Linked DNA regions of Homo sapiens. The protein of the gene in region 4 interacts with the protein of the main gene of each other region in a pairwise test. Each region holds a gene or a part of one and is shown on either strand. Other genes may lie near its edges.

Region 1 (3,120 bases), on a different chromosome or scaffold from region 4:
ACTTAGTACTAACAAAGACTGGATTTGGATATGTGTGTCAACCCACTACTGATGGCCCAGACTGGTTCATCTGAGTGACCTTAACAAGGACAGCCATCCTTGTTCCCTACCAGTGTTTGTATCTTGGCCATAAAGGAGAGTTTCATTTCATTTCCCGAGAGGGGTATCATTTCTATCCCTCCCTCTTCTCCAAGGAAACAGGAGTGAATTTATTTGATTGGTGAGACTGGGAGAAGTAGCTGAGCAGGGGGGGTTCAGTCCTCTCTGAACCGCCTGCCCACAGGCTAAGGAGGCTCTGCTCCACCTCTATGTTGTAAGCACACAGAGGTCAGGAAGGTGAGTCTGGAAGTCTGTCTCTGTGTCCCTACGTCCCTTACACTGGTGTTTGACATGGGCGAGGCAGCAATTCTGAGGAAGGTAATCTGCCCCACATACCCAGATTATCCCTTGGGAAGGTAGTCCCAAGGTCCAGACATGGAGGGGAGGGCTATGGCCACAAGTTCAATCCAACATTACCAGTAACGAGGTTGACATTCTCATCTCTATTATTCTGACATTTGGGTCTGTTTCTCCTTGGCTCAGAATTTGGAGTTAGTGGGAAAGGTGTCATTATCGCTTAAAAATGGCAGAAGCTTAGTTGGTTTAATATTATCTGTGCCCCTGCCTCCATGCTCCTTAGCCTTCCTGTGCAGAATTACAGCTTGTAGGAAACGAGAGGGAGGTGACTTGTTTTACACTCTATATCCTTTTATCTTTCTCTATTTTTCCAGCATTATTTGCATTACTCCTCTTCTCAACAAAAGGGGGGAAAAGAATGGTGGTGTATGGTAGCCAACCTCCAAGATGGCCCTAGTGATCCTTGCTTCCTGGTATTCACACTCTTGTGTAGTCTCCTCCTATGATGCACAGGATGACCTGTGTGGCCAATAAAATGTTGCAGAAATGACAGTGGGTGATTTCTGAGGCTAGATCATAAAAGGCATTATGGCTTCCACTTTACTTTCTCTTGGATCGGTCACTCAGGAAAACTGGCTGCCATGTTGTGAGGACACTCAACATCTCTATGGAGAGGAAACACATGGTAAGGCACTGAGGCCTCTTTCCAAAAGCCTAAACTAACCAGAAAAAGTGATGTGAATAAGCCATCTTAGAAGGGGATCCTCCAGCCCCAGTTGAGCATCAGCTCAGGCTGATGTCTTGACTACAATCTCAAGAAATACTCTAAGCCAGAACCAACCAGATGAGCTGTTCCATAATTATGTGACCCACAGAAAGTGTGAAATAATACATGCTTATTATTGTTTTAAGCCACTGACTTTTGGGCGTAACTGGTTACATGGCAACAGATATCTAATAAATACATCTTTCACTGTTTGATGCTAAGTAATGAGTAGTCAGTCATAAAGTTGATTTTGGGTTTCTACTTTCATTTGGTTCTCAAAGTCAGAAAATGAGTGTATAGCCTCGTGGGACCCACTCCTGACTGAAAGTGAAAAATATTATGGCTTCAAAATGATAGGCAGAACAAATTCTATACAACTGTCCCCAAACTTCTGAAACCTATTACAGCCTGCCCCTTTCACCAATTCCCATTCCATATAAACCAAAATCCATTTAAGAAAGACCACAGCAAGAGTCCCAGACTATTACACTAAAAAAACACATCTCTGCAAAAGGTAAGTGGCTGCTTGAACAACCTGAGCTCCTTTGGCACAGGGACCAAATTACTACCCAAGATCTGAAGCAAAAGCACAGCACAGAAGTTGGCTTATCATATCTGAGAAAGGTTCAGCTAATTCAAACATGAATATTCATAGACCACAAGGCTGGGGTTTGATCAAGCATGGAATGAGGAAGGAAGCATGACACAGCGGGAGAAACACTGGCCTAAGGATTGACACAGTCTTTAAGGTCAGTTAGAGCAGCTTAACTTTGGGCCAGTTATCTCAGCTCTCAGTCTGTTTCCTCATCTGTAGAATAGGACTGTAATGAGTTAAACAAGTATGATGCTCTTCGTATGGTGTCTGACAAAGAGTTCAACCTGAAAATATTAGCTCCCATTATGATCATATGGCTTAGACAAGAGTAGGCAGAGGCCTGGCACTTCAAGGAGGTGAAGAATGGGCCAGTCAGTGGCTGGACATCTCTAACTAGGAAACGAACTCAGGCCACAACTCAGGCCTCATTTCCTGAAAATGAGATTTGACAAACTTTAGATCAACACAGTTAGGGTTTTGGAATCCCTTCTTTGATATCTTTATTTTGAGACGGTCTTACTTTGTTGCCCAGGCTGGTGTGCAGTGATGCAATCACAGCTCACTGTAGCCTTGACCTCCCAGGCTTAACTGATCTTCCTACCTCAGCCTTCCGGCTGGGACTACAGGTGTGTGCCACCAAACCTGGTTAATCTTTTTACTTTTTGTAGGGATGGCATCTCACTATATTGCCCAGGCTGGTCTTGAACTCCTTGGCTCAAGCAATCTTCCAGCCTCAGCCCCAGAAAGTGCTGGGATTATAGACATAAGCCGCTATGCCCAGCTCTCTGACACCTTTAAAAGCAAGACAAATAATTTCATCATGAATTTATCTGAAAGAAGGATCCAGATGACATTTCTCAAGTCTAATGTCAACATGCTAAAAATCCATGAAAAAGCAATGATGTAGTTGCCATGTGGGGCAAGTTAAACATTTAAGGCAAAGCTTTATAATTCTGGGAAAAAATGTACAAGTGACTCAAAACATATTCAGAGTAGACTTCTCATGAGATATATTCCCTACTTGTTCTCTGTGAGCTGCCTTAAAGGTGAAATGGAATAAAAATGGTTATTGAAAAACTTGAAGTGAATTAGATTAATATATGCATTTTATAAAATGCACTAAACCAATTTTGTCAAAAAAAAATTTTGAACTAGAACTGCTGCTGGGCTAAGAACATACTCTTCCTGCCAAGTTCCCAGTGGGAGCAAATTTTCATTGCTAAGTTTTATAAACCTCTGGGGGGGCGGGTGGAATGAGAAACTATGTGCATAATGGAAACTGTGACACAGTCTTGATCGTATGAAGACTACCAGGTGCAGGAGTAATAGACTCTACTTAGAAATCTTCCAGCTCAGGTCCTGA
Region 2 (3,521 bases), on a different chromosome or scaffold from region 4:
ATGGTGAAACCCCGTCTCTACTAAAATACAAAAAATTAGCCGGGCGTGGTGGTGCGCGCCTATAGTCCCAGCTACTCGGGAGGCTGAGGCAGGGGAATCGCTTGAACCCAGGAGGTGGAGGTTGCAGGGAGCCGAGATTGCGCCACTGCACTCCAGCCTGGTGACAGAGCGAGACTCCGTCTCAAAAAAAAAAAAAAAAATATATATATATATACACACACACAAACACACACACACACACACACACACACACACACTAAATAATATTAAACAATTAAGTTATGACCTGAGGCAAAAGATATGGTAGCAAACTGATTGATTACAATTCAGTGCTGTCATAACTCTTGAACTAGAAAGAGCAAATCTAAATACAGATAAGAAAAAAAACAAAAAGACCCGGTGTCAAATTATATCAGTTCACTGTATGCATCCAGGATTTTGAGACAAATTTATAGCATTATTGTCAATAAATTTTATGCACTATACATTAAATGTTTAACTACTTTTAACTGGTATTACAGTTAAGACTTTTAACAGAAACATTTTTAATGATGGAAGCAAAAATTCCTTTATCAGACAGTTTGTTCCAATTGTTAGATACATATTATATAGAAAGAGGGCCTCTGAATTTTAATACCCCCAACCTGTCTGCTAAAACTGGACAAATCACAAAGAGAAGAAAAGTTACTTTTTAAAGCAACTTTTACTGACACAATAATCAAAGACTGATATTCTTTTCCATGCCATATGGTATATTTTCTCCACATTTTGTGCTAATCTGCAATTTCAGTATATGTGCTAAAAGGCCTATATTCAACTATATACAAGAGCCTTTTCTTGATGAACACAAATATAAATATTAATTGGTAATTCCTTAAATAACTATTTTTAATATAACAGTGACATCAGAATTAACGTTCTTTTTTAAATGTTACATTTGATGAAATTCAAATGTAACATTTAAATGTATTTTATAAATAACATTGTATCTATAAATTTAGATATCCTAATAAGATTTACGTGATTTTAATATCATACTAGAATAGTTTATTTCCAAACTAAATTCTATTTCCTAAGAATAAATTATATATCTAGACATAAGACATGAACGTGATGTTCAGAGAACTGTTACATTAAATCACAAAAATCCATTATTCTTGATTCCAGGTTACCAGAGTTATTTGGTAGTAATACATATGTTCTAGTATTTTATAGTTATTCCATATAATTTTGATTAGTAGCCAAGTTAAATTTTATTTAAAGAGGTTATGAGTACAATAGATAGATTGAAAAATCCACATTTGTGTGTACATTCACCTTGTCACATCCATTCTTTCTCAGTTTACCTAGTTTGCTTACTCTCATACCTTATCTAGCTTAATCAATTGCTTGCTGTAAAATAACTATTCCTCACCACATGCTCAGAGTTAAAGAGGTATCATGTACATGAAAGAGTCTATAAAACTGTACAGTAATAGCAAGTATATATGTTAAGGACAGATTTGGAATTATCAGCAAACTTATAGAAAGAAATTATCTTTGAAGACTAGCAAGCTGCTAATGATTTCGGATCTTTAAAACATCTCTGAAGTATCCCAGGACCCTATACCAAATTAATACCCAATAAATGGTTACTTAAAGAATAAATGAAGAGATAGCTCTCGGCCAGCTCTTAGTTTGGCAGTCAGGAGCATCATTCATGTCTATACCATTCTTCTGTATGACTGCTTTCCAAAAAAAAATCAAATACAGCCATTATCCAACAGATATTCACTATTTCAGGCTATGACTTGAAAAGGGTGACCTCAGCTACCAAACTACCAATTATTTAATGAACTATCCCGAAAGTACAAGGATAGAAATATGTAAATGTAAACAAAAAAGTTGAAAAATGTTTCTAGATCAGCAAGTCATCGTTTTTCGCATAATCCCCACTGGATCGATAACAAGGGACAGCAAATAACAGTGAAGGACATACTGGTTCACTACATTCTGTTCTTTAGAGGAATGGCTACACTTACAGTCTCCTGTCATGACCATGGGCGACTGCACACCTCATGAAATCCATCCACTTATTCTATCTCATCAACATTCCTCAAAGTTACATCCATAATTGGACAAAATGTCAACTATTCCAAACAGCTCAGAATGCAGAGGGTTACAACTCACCCTGTTCTCAACAAAATTTACAGTTTTCAAAGAACCTGAAATCACACTAGCCATTTGTTTTAACATTGGTAACTTACTATCTATTAACCAGGTTCCCCATTCTTTTGGAATGCAGCTGGTTTTTTAAAACAAAAGTCTCATGCCTATTTTCCTCATAGCCATTTTACATTTAGCCTTGTTAAACTTTATCTTATTTTTCCATTTTGTTGTATTTCCATAAGAAATATTTTATAAGCTAGTCATCACTTTGACTATTTACCTTTTCTGTCATTCACAAATGTAATCGTATTTCTTCCATGTCTATTCAAATCATTGATTTGTTAGGCTCAAGTCAAAAAAGAAGCCTACAAGAACATTACAAGGGATCCCTGTACAGGCTAACATCTGTTTCAATAATTTATTCATTTTAATCATTCAAAATATTTATTAAGCACCTATTAAGAAACATTCACTGTATAAGGCATTGGGGATAATTTTTCATAAGATACACTATTCCCAACCTCATGGTACTTACAGTGGTGTACAATTCAAACATTTAAAATAAAGTATAAAAACAATTATAAGTAAAATGAGAGTCTATAGTTGAAGAGGTAATCTGGTATGAGAAATCTATAAAGTAATATTCTTTAATATGGTAGTTTATTCATCTGCAAATGTGCGTTACAATCTTCTAGCTATATTTGCTCCTTTATTCCACAAGGGTATATGTAACGTAATCGCAAATGTTCTACTTAAATCAAGATATACTATATCTAGAACCATGCCTGGCACATAATAGACAGTTTTTTAGAAGTGTTAGGGACATTCTCCAGCAGTGTAAAACTTAAATTGGTTCCTTTCACTGAGATACACAAAAATTTTAACATATTTAAATAACTATTCACAATCTATTCTAAATTTCCACCAGATTTAAAGACAGTAATTTACACCAGTGCTTACTTAACTAAACACTAATTTATAGCAGTATTCTCAAACTTTAATGTACATACGAATCACATGGGGCTCTTGTTAAAACAAAGATTCTAATTTGATAGGTCTGCAGAGAGCTCTAAGGTTCTGCAGTTCTAACAAGCTCCCAGGTGACACCAATGCTGCTGATGAATGGAACATACAATTAGTAGCAAGGGTTGGTAGAATTCACTTTTCCCCGTCTTTGACAATAGGATGTTTGTCTATCTTGTCTGACTTTCATTCTCCATGAGTTCTTAAAGATAAAGCATCTTAATTATAATTGTGATAACGCTGTTTTTAAAATTTCAGTACTCTGAGATAAACTTCTTCTTGACCTCGATTTATATAACTTAGCCTTGATTTATATAAACTATTGTTCTCTTGCTGTCGTCCTATCTACC
Region 3 (3,521 bases), on a different chromosome or scaffold from region 4:
ACAATAAACAAACAAAAACAACATGCATTCCTCGCATTAGGTTAAAGACACCTTCAAATATTTTTCTCTTTTATACTTTTTTTTTAATTGTGGGTATTACAACTCCCACAAAAATGAGGTGCTGAATTCAGATATAGTAAGCAGGCACCATGCAAAAGCTGCCCAGTTTTGCCAATCAACCTTGATCACAATCTACAACACAGTCCCTCGGATGGCAGGCCCCATCTCAAGTGTGAAGAAACTGCCAAGTGAACAAAATGGTCTTCTCAACAGTATTTCCATGTAAACAATTAGGACACAACATTAGTTCAATTAGACAAGTTACTAACACACTGTGAAGGAAGAATGCATTTTCTTAATAGTAGTAGTCTTATTAGTTGAATAAACAATTTATGCAATGCAAATTTTGAATGTATATGCACACATGTGTACATGTAAGTATAATATATTTAGAAAGCAGACATAGACATTTTTTTCATGCTTGTGACCTGATGGTGTCCACAGGTCCACTCAAGTTACCTGGCTGTCTATCTTCTGCCTGACCCCTGAAGCGACGCCTGCGGCTACGATTGCGTCGCTGGGGTTTTTTTTCACTATCATCTGTAATTGCAAAGTTTACCATGAACTATTCTGACAAAAACAAACAAAAAAACAAAAAAACCTTCTTTCCTTCAAAGATTTAAAGGGGAAAAATAAACTTTTAATTAAACACAAAAATAAAACAACAAATGTTTACTGACAGGAAATACATTTTTGTAGCTTTCAGCATTCCAAATGGATTAAAAATGGAATTATCATCTGGAAATTCAGAGGGTTTTAACTCACAGTAAAACTCAGACTTAAACTGCCATCATTCAGGGACACAGTCTTCCTCTCTAGTACAGTTTGGTTTATACCGAAGTTAATGACATTTTAGCCCTTGAAAATTAATGCCTACTCTTGATATATGTACCTTTACCAGTGTCATTTATAATTATTTTAAAAGAGGCAAGATGAAAGCCTGATTTTAGCTTGGGGACAATAAAAGCACTAAGTACCTTGCCAGCTGAATATTTGTACTGATTTAATGGCATCAAAGGGCACTTTAACCCTCCAAGTTTCAAATAATTTGGCTATAACAAATCTGAGAACTAAACATTTAAGATAGACAAAAAGCTATCTACCTTGTTCAAAGTAAACACTAAGAAAAAGTCAATTTGTGAATTGCATATTTCTTTGAAAAAAGCTTCATATACTAACAATAGTTTACAATTATATATATATATATATATATATATATATATATATATATTTCTCTTCCCTAAGTGCTTACATACCTAGCCCATTTTCATTAACTGAAGCTGTATCAGATTCAGTCATTCCATCCATCAGAACAGCATCTTCATCAGTCCTTCGTCTACGAGACCGCCTACGACGGTTAGTACTGTGATGAGATTCGCTGGCATCAGTGTCTGCAGTCTGATCTGATTCTGTATTATCAAGTAAGCTGTATGGATTGCTGTCTGGATCTTTGAGCACTATATTCATGTCAGAGGCAAGAAATATTCGTTTAAGAGTACTGCAATTATGAATGTTTGATCTATATTGAACTATATCAATGACAAATAAACTTCAGTCTCCCCCAATAAAAATGCACTGTCTTCAAATAAAATGTTTTCAATATTATTTACCTGGAAAATAACAAAGATAATTAAATATGATAAAACTTTAAGTGGTGATGAAAAATTAAAGCAGAAAGTAAGCAGACATCTTGGCTTCCTAACATTTCCTGTGCCTTGTTTTTAAAATATACATTAGAAAATAGTGTATTAAATGCTAATTCTTGCATTCACATTTCAAGGTAATCCTGCCCAGAGACTAGAAAAACAAAAATGAAAAGAAACAAATATTCAGCTGTTAAGAAATAATTATAAGAGCGAGCTTTCATCCCCTTAACTGAGTTCAAAATGACTGCAGCTTTGTTGTGTTGATGTTGATGGACTGTTTCCCAAATAATATTCAATACCTGCATTCCATGACATAATAGAAATCCGTAACTGAACTGAAGCAATCAAGACAAGTTGAAACAAAGCAGCCAATTAAATAAGGTTGAACTTCTAACTGGTTATGAAAGGAAAATGTTGAAACGAATGCTGACTAGTACTCCATCTTTAGAAACATTATGGAAGGTGATGTGAAGGTGGAAAAGGAAAAACTGTAAGGTACAATTCATAAGAAAAATACCCATCTTACCTATGTGCATTTATTACCTCCAACAATCAAATTTATAGAAGAAATTCACCTAATTCCGATTTTTCCTAAGATTCCTTTGGTAACAGCTAGCAAGCTAAGCATCTTTGCAAAAGACACTAAGCGTATCCATTAATCATAAAACACTAGGTCAAGTACATTTATTTTGCAATTCAGTATACTGTAATTTTAAACACCTTGGTAACTGTACAAAGTGTACTAAAATATAAAAACTATTACCCTGAAAGCCTGTAAACTAAACTTAAGGCTCAAAGAGTATTACTGTGGAAAGGGAGAAAATCTAAACAAACAAAGAACAAGTTCCTAATTTTTGCCCTGATTTGTTCCAGTTTTTGTAATTTGTAAGCACAGTTGGCATCTATATTTAATGTATCTACACACACTTTCTATAATATTAAAATACTACATAAGTTTTCATGGGTATAACATTAAGGAAGGTGCGGGTTTCTTAACGTGGTATACCATAATGATATGTTAAAGTTATATCCTTAATATAGTCTATGTATCTATCCCTGGCAATTAACTCCCTAGCCCGTTATGGTAACCAAGGATATTCTGGAAACTCCTACAACTTAATGTAAAGCATAAAAAAATTTTAGAAGACAGAAGTAATTAAGTAAAACGTTTCCTACACCCTCAAATCTTTAGTCATCCAAACACTCCTCTTTACAGCACAGTTCCTCCAACAATTAAAAAACTTAGTTAATTCCACAATTTTTCCCTGTTCCCAAAGTACTACATAGTGTAGCTAAGAATGCTCTTCACTTCGTTTTCAATATTAAGTATAGAAAAGTACTGACATCTCTCTGTGCATTAGAAATCTCTGGGTCTGTCTGGCAAACAAAAAAACATAACCCCAAAATTCTAGGGAAAACAAAAAAAATTCTAATTAAATAAGCCTCCAAAACCTGAAGAGAGAAACATCTGACCCTCATCATATAAAGAAAAGCTGCCAACTAAAGTTCTGACCAGTATATTCTAAGTAAACCTTCACTGAGAAACACTCTACGAGGGCTTTTCCTGATACTGCTATATGGTCCACTACTTTCTCTAAGACAATGAGTAGCAAGAGAAACTTCCAAAAATGGGTGGCCCTGGGAGATGAATTAACTTTTGTAAAATTAAACTGTTTACAAATAATGGATGCTGACAGAGTATAGAAAAGACTACCAGAACTGATGGAGGATTTGCCACCACGTGGTCCACCACGACCTCGACCCCCTGAAACACTTCTGCCTCTTCCTCCTGGGCGTCTCCTGCTGTCACGCTGA
Region 4 (3,521 bases):
AGCTTGTGGCTGGTTTTCCTCAGCACCATACCCAGCACCTAGCACAGTGCCTGGCACAAAACAGGCTTAGGCAGCACTGGCGGAAGGGGCTGGATGGATGATGCTGGAGCCCAGCACTCGGCATTGCGCCCTGACCCATGCCCCCAGTCGGCCCTGGGACCCACAGGACCTGCCACGGCCCCCAACGACCCAAGTGTCAGTCACAGTTGGATCTTGGTGACCAACTTCTGCCTAGGGGGTGCTAGGTGCTTAGAAGGAGCAGAGAAGAGAAGAGGCACAGACTGTAACCAGACAGCTTCCTCTCCCCCTGGAAAAACATGATTGGAGCAAGAGGAAATTGCCTGGGCTCAAGGAATGTTAAGCAAATAGAGGACACCTGTGGGTCCAGCCAGGCCCCGGAGTACTGAGGACACCAGAATAGGGAATAATTGTGCCAGAGCCAAGTTCATCCCGCGGAGGCTTCCTGGATGAAGCAGGCCTGGAGCTGTTTCTCATCCCTTTGGGGAGCAGCCTGCCCCTGTCCTTCCTCCGGGGAACCTGAGCTGAGAGCAGCAGGCTTGGCCCCCAGCTGGGTGCTGGAGCTGGCTGAGCCTCACTGTTGTGTTTCAGGGCCCATCCTCCCACCAGGACATCCTTCATCTGCAGCCAGCGCCCCCGTCTCATGTAGTGGGCCTCCACCGCCCCCCCCACCCCCAGTCCCACCTCCACCCACTGGGGCTACCCCACCTCCCCCACCCCCACTGCCAGCCGGAGGAGCCCAGGGGTCCAGCCACGACGAGAGCTCCATGTCAGGACTGGCCGCTGCCATAGCTGGGGCCAAGCTGAGAAGAGTCCAACGGGTAAGAGCTCCTGTGTGCGGGGTGGGAATGGGACCGAGGGGACCCTTGTGCCATCTGCAGAGCGCTTGTGTTCCTTCCCGCATCTGCGAGACACAGCAAACTGCTTCCCTGCCCAAAGCTAGCTGGCCCTTGGCCACTTGTTCTCAAACGAGAAATCACATGGGACAGCACTTTGAAATTATGAAGTTAGCCTTTGAGCCTCACGTTGACCTTCACACGTGGGGCAAGAACTATGTCCCCCTTTAGAGATGAGGAAATTGAAGCACAAAGAGCACGAGTAATTTGCTCAAGTCACACCGTTTACAAATTGCAGATTTTGGACTCAAGCCTGGGTCTCCTGAATCTATGTCCATTGCCCTTTCCACTGTAGGAAGCTGTATGCTGGCAACTAGGTCCACCCGGCTGTTTCTTCCCTAACCCTTGCTCATATGTTCTAGAACTGTGCTTGTAAGAATAGCTCTAATACAGACCTTTGGCTTACATTGTGTTTCCTTCCCACAGGATAGTCTCTTCTCCCCTCCCTCCCTCCCTCCATGTGTCATGGCTGGTCTTGGCAAAGACACTAACCATGAGTCTGCAGGCCTGGGGAGTGTCTGCGACTTGTGTGACCTGGGCTGGTCCTTGTCCCTCTCTCGATTCTGGTTTTCTCCCCTGTGGGGTTGGAGAATAATGGACCAGATGGCCCCTGAGGCCCCTTGCAGTGCTGCTGCCATAGGATTCACACGCACACAGTCCCCTGCATCCCCTCACATCGTTGCTGCTCCTGTTCTGCCATCAGCAGCAGAATCTAAAACGCGGCCTCCTTTTTCCTCAGCCAGAAGACGCATCTGGAGGCTCCAGTCCCAGTGGGACCTCAAAGTCCGATGCCAACCGGGCAAGCAGCGGGGGTGGCGGAGGAGGCCTCATGGAGGAAATGAACAAACTGCTGGCCAAGAGGTGGGTCTCTACACCTCCCGAGACTTGGTGTGCCTAGCAGGAAGCTCCTGCCCCCGCCCCCAGCGCTGCACAGAGAATCCTCTCTTGACCCCAGAATCTTTGTTCCCTGGGTTTAGCCAAGCAGGGGAAACTGTTACTTAAGTTTTCCCTTCCCAAGGGGTTAGTCTGAAGCGCAAGCCCACAGGAGTCCTCTAAACTCCAGATCCTTCATTTTAGCTCAGCAAATATTTCCTGAAGCATCTACCATGTACCAGCCCTGTCCTGAGCAGAGATAAATGTGGAGACAATTTCAGAGATAAATGCGGGAAAAAGAACAGTCCTTGCTCTTAAGATCCTAACAGAAATAAGATGTGGCCGCAGTGGTCGAGTTTGCAGAGGACACTCTGGTGAATGTGTGGTGAAGGCACCCCATTCTCCAGGGTTCTTTATGGAGGACTCAGGAGAAGGAGTTATGAAGGGTAGGAGCCCAGAGGGCATTGCCCTGAGCGACGGAGAGAGAGTAGTTCCATCTACATCCCGGCCGGGCTCTTGGGCCTGAGACCTGGCCATGTGTGTCTGCTCGCTGCAGCGGGTGTGGCTGCAGCCTGCCATTGTGGCTCTCCGCTGTTCCCCAAATGAAACCCGAGCAGATGGGGAGATCGTCCAGGTCTTTCTCAAAAGGGATGCAAAGCTTGGATTTTATTTTTAAATATGACTTGGCATCAGGAATGTGCTCACCTTGGACTACCAATATCGTGGCTCACTTAGGCACCAGAGGGCACGGGAGTAGGCCTCACCTGCCAGAACAGAGGAAGCTGCAGCGGGGGCCCTGCTCCCTTGGTAACCCCACCTCCACCCCCTGCCACTTTGTCGCCTTCTCCTGGCCCTCCCAGCTGCCTTCCAATTGGCTGACCCAAGTGAGAACTCTGTGTGCCCAGGGTCTTCACACTGCAGTCCTAGTTCCTCTCATTACCTTCCCGTGGCTCCATGAGGATGATGCGAGATGACAGAGGCCCACAGCTGCAGGCAGCTGGTGTGGCGCTTCATGGCAGGGCCACAGCCTGGGTTTCCTGCCAAGGGGCTCTTTGCTTGCATCACAGATGGCAGGGAGGGGAGGCTCCCCGTGTGTCAGGGAGCAGCAAGGTGGATCCGCAGCACGGGCGTCTCCGGAGCCTCTACTGGGCCTGGGCGTTTGTACATCGCCAAGACAGGAGGCAGGCTTCTGAGCAGTTTCCTGTGAGAGTAAGTCCAGGTGTGTGGGGCTTACAGTGGCCACACAAAGGCGAATGGCTCCGTGGGTGAGAGAGCCGGGAGGGCTCGCAGAACGATGAGGACGTCCCGTGCTGTAAGAGGGACAGTGGGCAGAGTTAAGGTAAGGCTGGGAAGGCTGACGCCCCCTGTGCCTGGAGAGCTAGGTGTGGAGGAAATGGACCAAAAGTCAGGCTGGAAGAGGGAGCCTCCTGGTGCAGGGCATCGGGTTCCACCTCAGAGCACTCAGAGGCGAGGATGGGCCACAGAGAAATAGAAATAGTTTTGGAAAAGAAAATATGAATGCTTTCCCTAAGTCCTAGACCAAGCTGAGGGGAAGCACCTTTCTGTCTGAGAACAGGAAAAGGCCAGTATTGCCAGGAGCCAGTGAGATGCCAGATGCCGGTGGGAGAGTCAAGGCCCTCCCAAGAACAAACATGCTTTGCATAGCTCAGCAGGGATCAATCAGGTGCTCTCTGAAATCCACCTCAGTGATGGCTACTGGGTGGAGCCGACGAT
Region 5 (3,533 bases), on a different chromosome or scaffold from region 4:
CTGCACAGATTCATTTCTATGCAGAGGAAGGGACTGAGACTTAAGATGGTAATCAAGTGGCAACATGAATGGATTGGTAAGTGGGGACTATTTGTGCAGAACGCTAGCAGTTTTATACACAGCAATTAAGATATCTAAGAATTCTCACCAGCAAATGACACCATTACCTTTTATAGATCAAATCAGAATGTCGGCATATAAACCTGTTCAGAATAAACCTGGCCTGAAAATTTTTGAAGATAGCATCACCTCTTCTTTTTTTAAAATTAATTCTTAATTTTATAAATAATTCTATTAACTGTTACTTTAACAGGATATTGAAGTATTATTTTTATTACATTAAAACTTAAGAGAAAATACGGGAGCTTGGAGGACAAGAGAAAGCCCTGCTATGCTGGAATTTTGTCTTTCTGAGAGTAATAACATCTACAATAATTTTGAAGTATGGAAAAAAAACAAGAAGAAAACAGGTGTTATGCTGATCTGTGTGTTGTTTCATTGTACAAACTAAAATATTCATGTTCCCCAGAAAATCAAATATCTTTATTTTCAAATTTAAATTTAAACACATTCCAAAGTTTAAAAAAATTGTTTGAAAATTGCCTTGGATTTTATTTATCTACTATACCATGGCCCTTCTTTACAGTAAAATTAGCTGCCCACTCTTATATGAGTACAGTTCCCAGAAATATAGAAGCTCAACATTTTACTTAACTTTGCCCCAAAAAATATTTTTAAAAAGAATTACTTTATTCTATAATCGGAATAAAGCAAAATGATAAAGACGTGCAAAACAGAACAAATAAAAATAGAAACTTTGACACCCCTCAGCAGTGACTAGTTGCATACAAAATAGCTTCCACTCCTCCAACTCTATTAACCTTTCTATCTCCCACCCTTGAGATTTTTTAAGATCCTACAATAAATGTAATATGCACACAAACACAAGCACACACACACACACACACACACACACACACACACGAGGCCATCTTTATCTTCCACATTTGCCTGTACTCTTTGCCCCCCAGTAAATTTCCCACGACACTAAGATTTTCTACGATCCACGAGGAGCTGCTTATTAGTTGCCAAAGTAGGAATTGGTGAAGCCAACGTAGTCATAGCCAGAGAGATGGCTTCGACCCCGTGGGTCCATATATTGCTGCATATGTGTGGCACAGAATGACACTTGCTCTGGGGTAAGGGCCTGAAAAGTATAAAAAGAGAAAAATACAGTTATAGGGATTCAAAATAGCTGGTTCCTTGGGGCTTCCCATATTACGCCATAAATGCAGGAGATGGAGAGTCTCTGGAAGACGCAAGCCCTATTTCTATTACACACAATTTTTATCTCATAAATTTATAATTTCTAATGAGTAACTTAACTTTTAATCTCAGCCCTTTCTTGAAAAAGAGAGCTTACTCACTTTGATTATTCTGTAAATCTCATTCCCTAAAGTTGTTTTATTAAATAGAAGGAATTATATGCCTAACAACATTTGTTGACCACTTGATCTATTTCATCTTCCTGGCTGCTTTGAGATGTGGGGACTAGCATGTTTTATGAGTAAGGTAAAATACTCAAGAAGGTAGAATAACTCACCAGTGGTTACACTGCCAGAAAGTGGTAGAGCTGGGACTTGAACCTATGATCCTCTTATGCCAAAGAGTTCCTCTATTCACTGTGCTGTTTGATTACCAAGTGGATCCCTAAAGACTCCAATAAGTTAGCGTGTGGGTGGGTGGCTCCAGATAGTGTCTGGAAGACCACATCATTTTCTTTTTGTAACAGCTTTGTCGAGGTATGATTGATAAAGAATTGCACCTTTAATGTGTACAGTTTGATGAGTTTAGACAATTGGATGAGTTTGTGCAAAACGATACCATCATGTATGTGACCCTTTGTAATCTGGTTTCTGCTTAATTGTTTTCCCTTTCACTTTCTGTTACTATCTTCTTACCTTATGCTTTAGGTATTAGGAAAATCTGTTTTCTCAAGTTCCTTTGCACACACACTTGCCTTTGCCTGAAACACTTAGGCTTTCCTTTGATGACTTGATGAGTTCCTGCACGTCCTTCAACACTCACCCTGTGTTAATCATAGATGATACTTTCCCTGATGCAAGTATTTTAAGGAGAGGAATGAAGAAAGCTCTTGGAATCAGAGAGAAGAGAGATTACTTCTGGTTGTAATAAAATTCCCCACATCTTTGTTCCCATGACAGATGTGTTTGCTTCTGTTACAGTGTTTTTAACTTGTAAAGTTCTGTCTTCCCCACTACACCTGAATTTAGGGACTGTGTCTTACTAAAGTTTGCACTCCTCATGCCTGGAACATAGTAAGCATTCAATAAATGCTCTTTGAATTAATGAGGAAAAAAAAAAGAAATAGCCTTAAAAACTGAGTTGCAGATTTTGAATTGACTCTCACATTCAATAGAGTACCACAGTACGTTTTTGAGTTGGGTCAAGACAAAATGAAGTGGTTACCAAAGCAAATGACATCTTGTGAAAGGGGAGGTCTGAAAAAAAAAAACAAGTGGGTGGGTTTTTTCAAAGTAGGCCACCGGGCCTGAGATGACCAGAATTCAAATTAGGATGACAGTGTAGTAGGGGAAGCAACCAGAATCGGACCTGCTTCATGTCTTCTTTGGTAATATATGACTTGCCCTCTGCCAGGGCTTGGAAGGCATTCTCTATTTCATCACTGGACTTGATGTTTTCTGACTCCTTGTCAATCAGGAAAGCAGTATAGTCCTCCAGTGAGACATAGCCCTTCCTGTGGGAGAAATGGATCAGGAGCTGAGCCTTCTCAAGGCAGAGAAGGAAGTCCCCTTTTTAATCCTACTCAGTGTCTCAGAAACAGAGGAAAGCCAGATTCTCCAAGTGCCTCTTCCAACTAAGCTTTCTGGGATGAGATGGGTTATGCTCTCCATTTTGGCTCCCCTTCATCACCCTCTTACAGCCAAACATTACTAAGCCAAATATTACTAAATATTACTAAGCTCCAGACTCTGTTTCAACATGGGTCATTCAGCCTGATTCTCGGTGAATTTTGAAATTTCCCATCAGCACCAGTCCTCAAATAATTTCTGGTCTTCTTTGGTTTTTAGTATTAGCAAGAATTATTCCCTAACAGTTACTTGATCTCTTGATGATTCTAACACACTCCCATAAGCACATAACCACCCCAACCCCATGTGTTGGTCTCTGAATCACCTATGTCTCCTTAAAATCTCACATACATGAAGGGATTCTTCTCTCTAGTCTCATCCTCAAAAGTAGCTGAAATTCATAGATTGAACATAAATCATGAATTGGAGAAATTGTAAAGCTAGTCCTCGAGTTAAAGTTAGCACCATTCACTGCTGAGCTAATCTTGAAAGGGCACCAAGAGCTGCCTAATTCATTTATGGTTGCCTATTTCTTCCTATTTTCAGATGAGTTAATTTCATGTTTTATGGATCATTTTACTCTCTGTGCTTCTCCCTCCAAACCCCCATCCCTGCTGCGGTCTGACCCTTAGTCTTGTT

The links.
Region 1: the proteins of EVL (region 4) and SH3RF1 interact in a two-hybrid assay, tested with the Homo sapiens proteins (one large-scale study listed by BioGRID).
Region 2: the proteins of EVL (region 4) and GDAP1 interact in binary tests that used the Homo sapiens proteins (3 or more experiments, as listed by UniProt).
Region 3: the proteins of EVL (region 4) and FXR1 interact in a two-hybrid assay, tested with the Homo sapiens proteins (one large-scale study listed by BioGRID and IntAct).
Region 5: the proteins of EVL (region 4) and SPTA1 interact in a two-hybrid assay, tested with the Homo sapiens proteins (one study listed by IntAct).

Annotation. Positions count from the first base shown.
Region 1 is NC_000004.12:169,096,849-169,099,968, forward strand, and holds part of SH3RF1 (E3 ubiquitin-protein ligase SH3RF1), read right to left. Parts: intron 1-3,120. UniProt on the Homo sapiens protein: Has E3 ubiquitin-protein ligase activity. In the absence of an external substrate, it can catalyze self-ubiquitination. Stimulates ubiquitination of potassium channel KCNJ1, enhancing it's dynamin-dependent and clathrin-independent endocytosis.
Region 2 is NC_000008.11:74,353,396-74,356,916, reverse strand, and holds part of GDAP1 (ganglioside-induced differentiation-associated protein 1), read right to left. Parts: intron 1-3,521. UniProt on the Homo sapiens protein: Regulates the mitochondrial network by promoting mitochondrial fission.
Region 3 is NC_000003.12:180,968,154-180,971,674, reverse strand, and holds part of FXR1 (RNA-binding protein FXR1), read right to left. Parts: coding exon 3,421-3,521; intron 1,518-3,420; coding exon 1,317-1,517; intron 601-1,316; coding exon of another isoform or gene 520-600; intron 1-519. UniProt on the Homo sapiens protein: mRNA-binding protein that acts as a regulator of mRNAs translation and/or stability, and which is required for various processes, such as neurogenesis, muscle development and spermatogenesis.
Region 4 is NC_000014.9:100,127,910-100,131,430, forward strand, and holds part of EVL (ena/VASP-like protein), read left to right. Parts: intron 1-609; coding exon 610-839; intron 840-1,653; coding exon 1,654-1,775; intron 1,776-2,422; exon of another isoform or gene 2,423-2,551; intron 2,552-2,727; exon of another isoform or gene 2,728-3,521. UniProt on the Homo sapiens protein: Ena/VASP proteins are actin-associated proteins involved in a range of processes dependent on cytoskeleton remodeling and cell polarity such as axon guidance and lamellipodial and filopodial dynamics in migrating cells.
Region 5 is NC_000001.11:158,610,183-158,613,715, forward strand, and holds the end of SPTA1 (spectrin alpha chain, erythrocytic 1), read right to left. Parts: intron 2,780-3,533; coding exon 2,635-2,779; intron 2,333-2,634; exon of another isoform or gene 1,208-2,332; coding exon 1,082-1,207; 3' UTR 522-1,081; downstream 1-521.